Homo sapiens: one gene and its partners. The protein of the gene in region 3 purifies or fractionates together with the protein of the main gene of each other region. This does not show direct contact. Each region holds a gene or a part of one and is shown on either strand. Other genes may lie near its edges. The genes, in order: SDF4, TANGO6 and PTPN18.

The links.
Region 1: the proteins of PTPN18 (region 3) and SDF4 purify together in Homo sapiens (affinity purification with mass spectrometry; one large-scale study listed by BioGRID and IntAct). This does not show direct contact.
Region 2: the proteins of PTPN18 (region 3) and TANGO6 purify together in Homo sapiens (affinity purification with mass spectrometry; one large-scale study listed by BioGRID and IntAct). This does not show direct contact.

The regions. Positions count from the first base shown.
Region 1 is NC_000001.11:1,219,072-1,222,010, forward strand, and holds part of SDF4 (45 kDa calcium-binding protein isoform 2 precursor), read right to left. Parts: intron 1,660-2,939; coding exon of another isoform or gene 1,628-1,659; exon of another isoform or gene 1-1,627. UniProt on the Homo sapiens protein: May regulate calcium-dependent activities in the endoplasmic reticulum lumen or post-ER compartment. Isoform 5 may be involved in the exocytosis of zymogens by pancreatic acini.
Region 2 is NC_000016.10:68,923,388-68,927,041, reverse strand, and holds part of TANGO6 (transport and Golgi organization protein 6 homolog), read right to left. Parts: intron 1-3,654.
Region 3 is NC_000002.12:130,362,453-130,366,106, reverse strand, and holds part of PTPN18 (tyrosine-protein phosphatase non-receptor type 18), read right to left. Parts: intron 1-3,654. UniProt on the Homo sapiens protein: Differentially dephosphorylate autophosphorylated tyrosine kinases which are known to be overexpressed in tumor tissues.

The DNA of each region.
Region 1 (2,939 bases), on a different chromosome or scaffold from region 3:
GAACATGGCCCAGCCCCTAAGACACAGCCTGGACCCCCGCCAAGACATAACCCAGAGCCTCCCACAGGCCTGATCCCCAAAGGCATAGCTTGGACCCCTCCACACAGCCCGGACTCCCCAAGACAGCCTGGACCCCCCCCTGCCCCAGACCCCCAATACATGGATGGCCCTGACTCCCCACAGACACAGCCCAGACCCCCAGGACATGGCCTGGACCCCCCACACAGCCCAGACCTCTCAAGACATGATCCAGAACCTCCCCATGGCCCAGACCACCCCAGGACACAGCTCAGAGCCCCTCATGCCTGGGACCCCTCAGGATGGGCCTGGGCCCCACCCCCCACACCCGCGCCTGCCCCTCTGGAGGAGCGGAATCACCCTGAAGGCTGACGTGCGCACGGCGCCGCGGGGCGAAGGACTCACTGCCCTTTTCCGTTTCCTTCACGTGTGACGTCACAGGGAGGAAAACACAGTTTCTAGAAATGACTGAGACTGGGGCTGAGCAGAGCTTCCCAGGAACCCTCCCAGCCGGGACACGGCACTGCCTCTGGGTGTGTGGCCCCCGCTCTCCTGCCGTGCCCACCCGGCCCCAACGGGCCCTCACCCCGAGGTCCCCACACATCCCAAGGACCCAAGCCACCCTGGGTCTCCAGGACAGAAACACCACCTCCTGCCCCATCTTGGGGCTCACTGCAGTCAGTGGCCAAGTCCAGTGTTGAGGCCCACACTCAGCCCCCTGCACGTGAGGCCCGACTCTGCCCTGGCCGAAGCCCCTGCCACAAGCCCGGCAGCCTCTGCGTCGCGCTCACTGCGGGATGAGGCCCAGCTGCCGTCCCATCTTATCCCTTTCTGAACAACCTCCATCTACACGACCGGTTCACTTAAAGGAAGACAGGAGTGACGGGGCTGTGGTTCCTGGGGCACCCCTCCCTGTCTGCTCCACCGCAGCTCCTGGGATGGATGGACGGGGCCAAACTGAGACCCATCCAGGAGAGGCACAGACGCCCCAGACAGGCCGGCCGAGAGACGCTTTCTCCAGCACAGGATTCTCACAGCCGCCGCCGAGCCCCAGCACCAACCTCAGGCTGGTGAAGAAGCCTTGAGTCCCAGTCCCTCCCCACGAGCCGGGCCTCTGCTGTTAGGGAAGGATCTGGAGAGACCCTCCTGGATCAGGGAGAGTCAACGACTGCTGTCCCTGTGAGAAGAGGACGCAGACCCAGAGAGAGGCAGCGATGGAGGCGGGGGAAGGGAGTGATGCCCGCCTGCCACGCCTTCACCGCGGTCCCCAGAATCAGGTCTGAGGCGCGAGGACAGCAGCCCCCGGACTCACGCGGTGACCCTCGCAGGAGCCATGCAGGGAGGGGTGGGAGGTCGCAGGAGTGACGCCTGCCAGCGCTTCCCAGGCCCCTCCTCCAGGACCCGGCAGCTGCTCTTCCTGAGCCAGAAACCAAATACCCAAAGAGGTCGGGGGGTCCTAGGCACCCTGAGGTCGGGGAGGCCAAGACGGATCGGACACGGGTGGGCAGGGAACAGCACCTCAGCATGCATGGGGACCCCCAAAACGCAGAGTGAATTCTAAACACACCTCTGCTGAGTCCCAAAGGTAGACGGAGGCTTCACAGAAATGTCACAGAGCTCTAGGTCCAGGTGGGCCATGTCCTGGGCAGAAAAGACCCAAATAAAGTGGCACCAAGGAAAGACAGACACAATCAGAGTTGGGGGGCGGGCACGGGCAAGGCCTCCTGCCCCAAGCACATCGCCAACAGGCCGGACCAACGGGATGAAGCTTAAAGACGCAGTCAGGACAGCAGGGAACGCGGGACCGGGGTGGAGGCACGAACCGTGTGTGGGGAGGAAAATGTAAACCACTCTTTTGGAAAGGAAGTAATAACGTCCAATTTGGCCGGGCACTGGGGCTTGTGCCTGTAATCCCGGCATGCTGGGAGGCTGCGGCAGGCAGATCCCTTTAGCCCAGGACTTTGAGACCAGCCTGGGCAACACAGGGAGATCCTCTTACTTTTAGTTTTTTTAATGTCCAATTTGCAGGATTTAGAACGGACAGGACCAAACTCCAGATAAGAGTACGTGAACTGGGAAAAGAGCAGGCAGAGCCAACAGGCTCAAAAGTCTCCGCGTCATTCTAGAAGGTCAAGGCCAGGCACAGGGGCTCATGCCTGCAACCCCAGGATGGGGAGAGGCCAAGGCAGGCGGGTCACTCGCGCCTGCAACCCCAGGACGGGGGGAGGCCGAGCGGGTCACTTGAACCCTCTGAAATCCAAGAGTTTGAGACCTACCTAGGCAACATGGGGAGACCTTGTGTCTACAAAATATATGTTTTTGAATCAGCTGGGCATGGTGGCACACACTGGTGGTCCCAGTCACTCAGGAGGCCGCCCCCATGGGGGCTGGTCACATGATATGGGCCGTTCCTGGCAGGAACGTATCTTACACCTTTATTTTTCTGTCCTCCAAGGAGGATAGATTGAGCCCAGGATGTGGAGGCTACAGGTGAGCTGAGATCGCACCACTGCACTCCAGCCTGGGCAACAGTGAGGCCCTCACTCTTAAACAATTAAAAATTAAAAATTAAAAAAAGAAAGAGGCTAAGACTAGGCGCAGTGGCTCACGCCTATAATCCCAGCACTTTGGGAGACTGCAGTAGGCGGATGACTTAAGTCCAAGAGTTTGAGACCAACCCGGCCAACACGGCAGAATCTATCCGTACAAAAAATACAAAAATTAGCCAGGCGCGGTGATGGTGCCTGTGGTCCCAGCTTCTGAGGTAGGAGGATCGCCTGAGCCCTGGAAGGTACAGCTGCAGGGAGCCGAGACTGCACCACTGCACTGCAGGCTGGGTAGCAGAGTGAGACCGTCTCATGAAAAAAGAAAGAAGAGGTGGTTTGCCTTGAGACTCTGGTGAGGAAATGTGTGTTACTGAT
Region 2 (3,654 bases), on a different chromosome or scaffold from region 3:
GAAGTGAAAATTATATAACATTTTATTCTCCATGGAAGCTTTGTCTGAATAATGTCATATGCCTTACTACTAAGAAAGGTGCATGAGTGTTACAGCTCTATTAGAATTTGTCTAGCAGGTTTTCTGGTCTTCACTGGAAAGCACCCCCCTCACCCACTGCCACCCAAAAGGTGTATGTGTGATCAATGAAAAGTAAGAATCAATGGTAATACTTTTCTGTTTGAAAACACTGGAGAAATTATCAGATGAGGCTTCAGGAGACCCTGAAAATTTGAATACCTTAAGGATCTTAAGTCCTTTTTACTGGCCAACATGGCGAAACCCCACCTCTACTAAAAATACAAAAATCAGCTGGGCATGGTGGCATGTGCCTGTAGTCCCAGCTACTCGGAAGGCTGAGGCAGGAGAATCGCTTAAACCCGGGAGGCAGAGGTTGCAGTGAGCTGAGATCACGCCACTGCCCTCCAGCTTGGGCAACAGAGCGAGACTCTGTCTCAAAAAAAAGAAAAAAAAATCCTTTTTATTTTTATTTTTTTCTTTTCTTTTTGGAAACGGAGTCTCGCTCTGCTGCCTAGGCTGGAGTGCAATGGCGTAATCTCGGCTCACTGCAACCTCCACCTCCCGGGTTCACGCCATTCTCCTGCCTCAGCCTCCCGAGTAGCTGGGACTACAGGCACACGCCACCATGCCTGGCTAATTTTTTATAGTTTAGTAGAAACGGGGTTTCACCATGTTGGCCAGGCTGGTCTTGAACTCCGGACCTCAGGTGATCCGCCCACCTTGGCCTTCCAAAGTGCTGGAATTACAGGCATGAGCCACGGTGCCCGGCCGAGACATTTTCAAATAATTATACTAGTATTATCATTATGCTAAACTTCATTCAGTGCCTCGGTTGTATCATGGACTTTTTTAAAGCATCTAAAATGAGAATAATTTACCTACAGTCTATTTGGCCTCTTTTTTAATTTCTCTTCTATATAACAATTTCTTCTAAAAAAAAAAACCAGCCAAGACAAATAGATCAATGGGACAGAACAGAAAGGCCAGAAATAGACCCAGATAAATAGAGTCAACTGAACTTTGACAAAGGAGCAAAGGCTTTAAATGGAAAAAAAAATACAGTTTCTTTTTTCTTTTTTTTTTTTTTAATTGGAACAAGTGTCAGTAGAAAAGACAGTTTTTTCAACAAATGGTGCTGGAACAACTGGCATGCACATGTGAAAAAATGAATCTAGACACAGACCTTGCACCTTGCACAAAAATTAACTTGAAATGGATCATAAACCTAACTGTCAAATACAAAACTATAAAACTCCTACAAGTTAACATAGTAGAAAATTGAGATGACCTCTTAAAAGCAATGACCTTTTAAATACAACAGCAAAGGCATGATCTATGAAAGAAATAGTTAAAAACCTGGACCTTATTAAAATTAAGAATGTCTGCTCTGCAAAAGAAACTGTCAAGAGAATGAGAAGACAAACTACAGAATGAGAGAAAATATTTGTAAAAGACATATCTGAAAAAGGACTAATATCCAAAATATACAAAGAACTCTTTAAACTCAATAAGAAAATGAACAACCTGACTTAAAAATGGGCAAAAGACCTTAACAGATAGGTCTACCAAAGAAGAATACCCTACCAAAGAAGATATACAGATGGCAAATAAGCATAGGAAGACATACTCAATGTCATAAGTCATTAGGGAATTGCAATTTTTTCTTTTTTTTGAGACAGAGTCTTGCTCTATTGCTCAGGCTGGAGTGCAATGGCACAATCTTGGCTCACTGCAACCTCCACCTCCCAGGTTCAAGCGATTCCCCCACCTCAGCCTCTTGAGTAGCTGGGACTCCAGGTGCGGCCACCATGCCTGGCTAATTTTTGTATTTTTAGTAGAGTCAGGGTTTTGCCATGTTGCCGGGGCTGGCCTCAAACTCCTGACCTCATGTGATCCGCCCACCTCAGCCTCCCAAAATGCTGGGATTACAGGCGTGAGCCACCACACCAGGCTTCCCACCCACCCCTCTTTGCATCCACAGAGTTCTCAATCCTGGGCATGGCAGAAGCACCTTGATCCCTCCCTGATCAAGGGTGTGACCTGGGATCCCTGGCCTCGGGCTGGACAACCAGGTGCCCACAACCTGTATGGGGGTATTTACTCATTGAACATCTAGCCCCTGGGGTTGTCCAGGGAAATGCACTGGGTGGCAGCAGCTATGTGAGGAGTTTGTTTCTGTTTTCTTTTTTTTGAGACGGAATTTTGCTCTTGTCACCCAGGCTGGAGTGCAATGGCATGATCTCAGCTCACTGCATCCTCCGCCTCCCACGTTCAAGCGATCCTCCTGCCTCAGCCTTTCAAGTAGCTGGGATGACAGGTGCCCGCCACCATACCCGGCTAATTTTTTTATATTTTTAGTAGAGATGGGGTTTTGCCATTTTGGCCAGGCTGGTCTCGAACTCCTGACCTCAGGTGATCTTCCCACCTCAGCCTCCCAAAGTGCTGGGATTACAGGCATGAGCCACCGTGCCCAGCTGAGGAGCCTTTTTTTTTTGAGAGGGAGTTTCACTCTTGTTGCCCAGGCTGGAGTGCAATGGTGTGATCTCAGCTCACTGCAACTTCTGCCTCTTGGGTTCAAGCAATTCTCCTGCCTCAGCCTCCCGAGTAGCTGATCTGGTCTGGAACTCCTGACCTCAGGTGATCCTCCTGCCTCGGCCTCCCAAAGCACTGGGATTATAGGCGTGAGCCACTGGCACCTGGCCAAAGCTCTGAAAATCTTTAACGATGTGTATAAATGAGCACAATGAAGACAATTCCAGAAATAGATGGTTTAATCTCAAAAGCAAAAGAATTAGAGAGAACTAGTCAGCTTAGTTAACTGGAAAGTCATTTTCTTTTTAAGTTGTAAAATTGGAGGCACTGTGGTTTGCAAGTAAGGGCTTTTTTAGCCAGTTTGATCACCTGCATACAAGCAGTTGAAGGATGCCTCTCCACTCTAGGGAAATTCTGATAAAAGACTGGATTACCTAGAGGATAATCAAGTGAAAGCCTGTGAAAACAAGAAGCATGGCTCTCCTTTGCCCCTGATAACACATGACTAACATTCACAACACTCCCATGGGTGTGCCCAGATCTGGAGGTTGCTCACTATGGGTGAGGGCAGTGTTTTTCAACTTTTTGAGCTCATGCCCTTTTGAAAAAACAAAACAAAACAAAACAAAACAAAACAAAACAAAACAAATCATGCCTCCTTCATTAGACATCACCTTTCCTTTCTTCCTTTTATTCTTTCTTCCTTCCATTTATCCATCCATTCAAAAACTGTTAATTAAGTACCTACTGTGGCAGGTTTATTAAATATGGCAGAAAGTAAGACATCTCTAAATGAGGCTGCTTGAAAGCAACAGCAATTAAGAAGGATTGTCTGCTCTTTGGAGTTCTATATAACAGCTTGAAATAATGGGAATTTTCCCAAGCAGTTCTATAGAGCACCCAAATTGGGCTCGGTGAAGAAGAGAAAGGACAGCATTGTAGCACAGGAACTGACTCAACCAATTCGCCTCACCAGCATGCAACAGATTTCAGCGGCTCGTCCCTCTCTCCCCTTCCTCCATTCTGCAATAGACCTCTAGCTTGCTTACCACTACTTCTACC
Region 3 (3,654 bases):
TAAGCATAAACATTTATGCTTGCCATGTTTAACTCTTCTGCACAGCAGGGGACCTACCCAAAATAGCCAAAACAATCTTGGAAAAAAGAACAAATTTGGAAGACTCATACTTCCTGATTTCAGAACTTCTACAAAGGTATAATAATCAAAACTATGTTACACTGGCACAAGGATAAACACATCAATCAGCTTAATAAAATTGAGAGTTCAGAAATAAACCCTTATATTTATGGCCAATTAATTTTCAACAAAGGGGCCAAGACGGTTCAATGGGCAAAGCATAGTCTTTTCAACAAATGGTGCTGGAACAACTGGATAGTCACATGCAAAAGAGTGAATGTGGACCCCTATCTCACATCACATACAAAAGTTCATTCAAAGTAAATCTGAGACCTAACTGTAAGCAAGAAAACTATAAAACACTTAGAAGGAAGAACAGGAGTAAGTCTTTATGACCTCTGATTAGACAATGACTTCTCAGATACACCAAAAGCACAGCAACACAATAGATTGGAATTAAAGTTTCACAAAATGTTTGTGCTTCAAAACACACCATCAAGAAAGTGGAATGACAACCCACAGAATGGGAAAGACATTTTAAATCATGTACTGATAAGGGACTTATATACAGAATAACGCTTACAACTCAATAATAAAAAGACAACCCCAAATAGCCCAATTTTAAAATGAATAAATGACATGAATAGACATTTGGCCAGAGAAGATATACAAATGGACGAATAAGCACATGAAAACCAAAACCACAATGAGGTACCACTTCCCACTCATTAGGATGGCATATATGTCATTGTCATATGCCACATAATGATGTTTTGGTTAACAACAGACCACATATACAATGGTGGTGCCATAGATTATAATGGAGCATATGTAGAAACCTGATACATGGCACTTGATATTGACACTGCATATTAAGTTGGGGAAATGATTGATACTCAGTAATGGTGCTGGGACATTTGGTTTTCCATATGAAAAATATATAAATAAAAAATGTATATACTATCTATGTTTGTGTAAGTATACTCTATGATGTTTACACAATGACAAGATAGTCTTAACAATGCAGACCATATCCCTGTCATTAAACTACACATGTCCCTCCCTCCCTCTCTCTCTCTCTGCTGATGGGAACGTAAAATGGTACAGCCACTGTGGAAAACAAAATGTTGAACATAGCGTTATCATATGATCCAGCAATTCCATGCTAGGTGTATACCCAGGGAACTGAAAACAGGGATTCAAACAGATACTAGTATACCAATTTTTTGTTGTTGTTGTTGTTGTTGTTTTGAGACGGAGTCTCGCTCTGTCGCCCAGGCTGGAGTGCGGTGGTGCGATCTCGGCTCACTGCAAGCTCCGCCTCATGGGTTCACACCATTCTCTTGCCTCAGCCTCCCGAGTAGCTGGGACTACAGGCGGCTGCCACCACGCCTGGCTAATTTTTTGTATTTTTAGTAGAGGTGGGATTTCATCGTGTTAGCCAGGCTGGTCTCGATCTCCTGACCTCGTGATCTGCCTGCTTCGGCCTCCCAAAGTGCTGGGATTACAGGCGTGAGCCACTGTGTCCAGCCTGTATACCAATGTTTGTAGCCGCCTTATTTACAATAGTCAAAAGGTACAAACAACCCAGATGTCCAACAGGCGAATGGATAAACAAAATGTGATATATACATACAATGAAATATTATTTGGCCTTGAAAACAGTGAAATTCTGATACACACTGCAACATGGATGAACCTTGAAAAAAGGACAAGTATTGTATATTAGTGTATTCCTGATTCCACTTGCATGAGGTACCTAGAATAGGCAAATTCATAGGGACAGAAAGGAGAATAGAGGTTACCTGGAAATGGGGGAATGGGGAGTTATTGTTTAATGAATACAGAATTTCTGTTTGGGATGATGAACATGTTCTGAAAATAGACAGTAGGAATGGTTAATCCATTGTGAATGTACTTAATTCAATTGAATTGTACACTTGAAATGGTTTAAATGGCAAAATTATTTTTAACATTCCTCACAGCACCTATAAACTGGCAAATTTTATGTTATGTATATTTTACCACATAATTTAAAGAAAGACACAATGGCATACCACTTCACAACCCCTAGGATGGCTATAATTAAAAAAAAAAAAAAGACAGTAACAAGCATCAGGGAGAAGAAATGGGGACCCTCAAACATTGCCGTGGAAATGTAAAATGATGCTGCCACTGTGGAAAACAGTTTGGCACTTCCTCAAAATGTTAAAAATAGAGTTTCCATATAGCCCAGCAATTCCCAGCAATACCCAAGAGACATGAAAACCCACATCTACACAGAGACTTGTATATCAGTGTTGATAGCAGCACTGTTCATAATAGCCAAAAAGTAGAAAGAACCCAATTTCTGTCAACCAATAAGTAAAATGTGGTAGATCCATTCAATGGAATAGTATTCAGCAAACAAAACAAAACAAAACAAAAATGCTAAGCAAAAAAAGGCTACATATTATGTGATTCAATTATATGAAATGTCCAAAGTAAGCAAATGTATAAAGGCAAAAATAGATTAGGGATTGTCTGGGGCTGTAGAGGTTGCTGGGAAATGGGGAGTGACTGCTAATGGATATAGGATTTCTTTTCTTTTTCTTTTTTTTTGAGAGACAGTCTTGCTCTGTGGCCAGGCTGCAGTGTAGTGGCACAATCTCAGCTCACTGCAACCTCCAACTCCCTGGTTCAAGCTATTCTTCTGCCTCAGCCTCCCGAGTTGCTGGGATTACAGGCACATGCCACCATGCCCAGCTAATGTTTGTATTTTTAGTAGAGACGGGGTTTCACTATGTTGGCCAGGATGGTCTTGATCTCCTGACCTCGTGATCCACCAGTCTCAGCCTCCCAAAGTGCTGGGATTACAGGCATGAGCCACCATGTCTGGCCTGGATTTTTTTATGGAATGATGAAAATGTTCAAAAACTTATTGTGGTAGGCCGGGCACGGTGGCTCATGCCTGTAATCCCAGCACTTTGGGAGGCTGAGGTGGGCGGATCACGAGGTCAGGAGATTGAGACCATCCTGGCTAACACGGTGAAACCCCGTCTCTACTAAAAATACAAAAAATTAGCCGGGCGTGGTGGCAGGCGCCTGTAGTCCTAGCTACTCGGGAGGCTGAGGCAGGAGAATGGCGTGGACCCGGGAGGCGGAGGTTGCAGCGAGCTGAGATCGCGCCATTGCACTCCAGCCTGGAGGACAGAGCGAGGCTCCGTCTCAAAAACAAAAACAAAAACAAAAACAAAAATCTTACTGTGGTAATAGTTGCATAGCTCAGGAATATAGAAAAATGATGGAACTGTACACTTTAAATGACTGAATTGTATATCAATAAAGCTGTTTAAAAAGATATTCTAAAACAACTATAATAGCAGTGTACTGTGGAGTATATTTTATATATAGAACTATAATATATAGTAACAATAGCACAAAGCATGGAAAGGGGTAATCGAAATATACTACAGTAAAGTTCTGACATTTTACATGAAATGTAGAATATTATTTGACTATAGACTATAAGTTAAAGATATATATTGTAAACCCTAAAGCCACAACTAAATATTTAAAATAAAGATGTATAGCTAATAAGGGAATAATTACTAT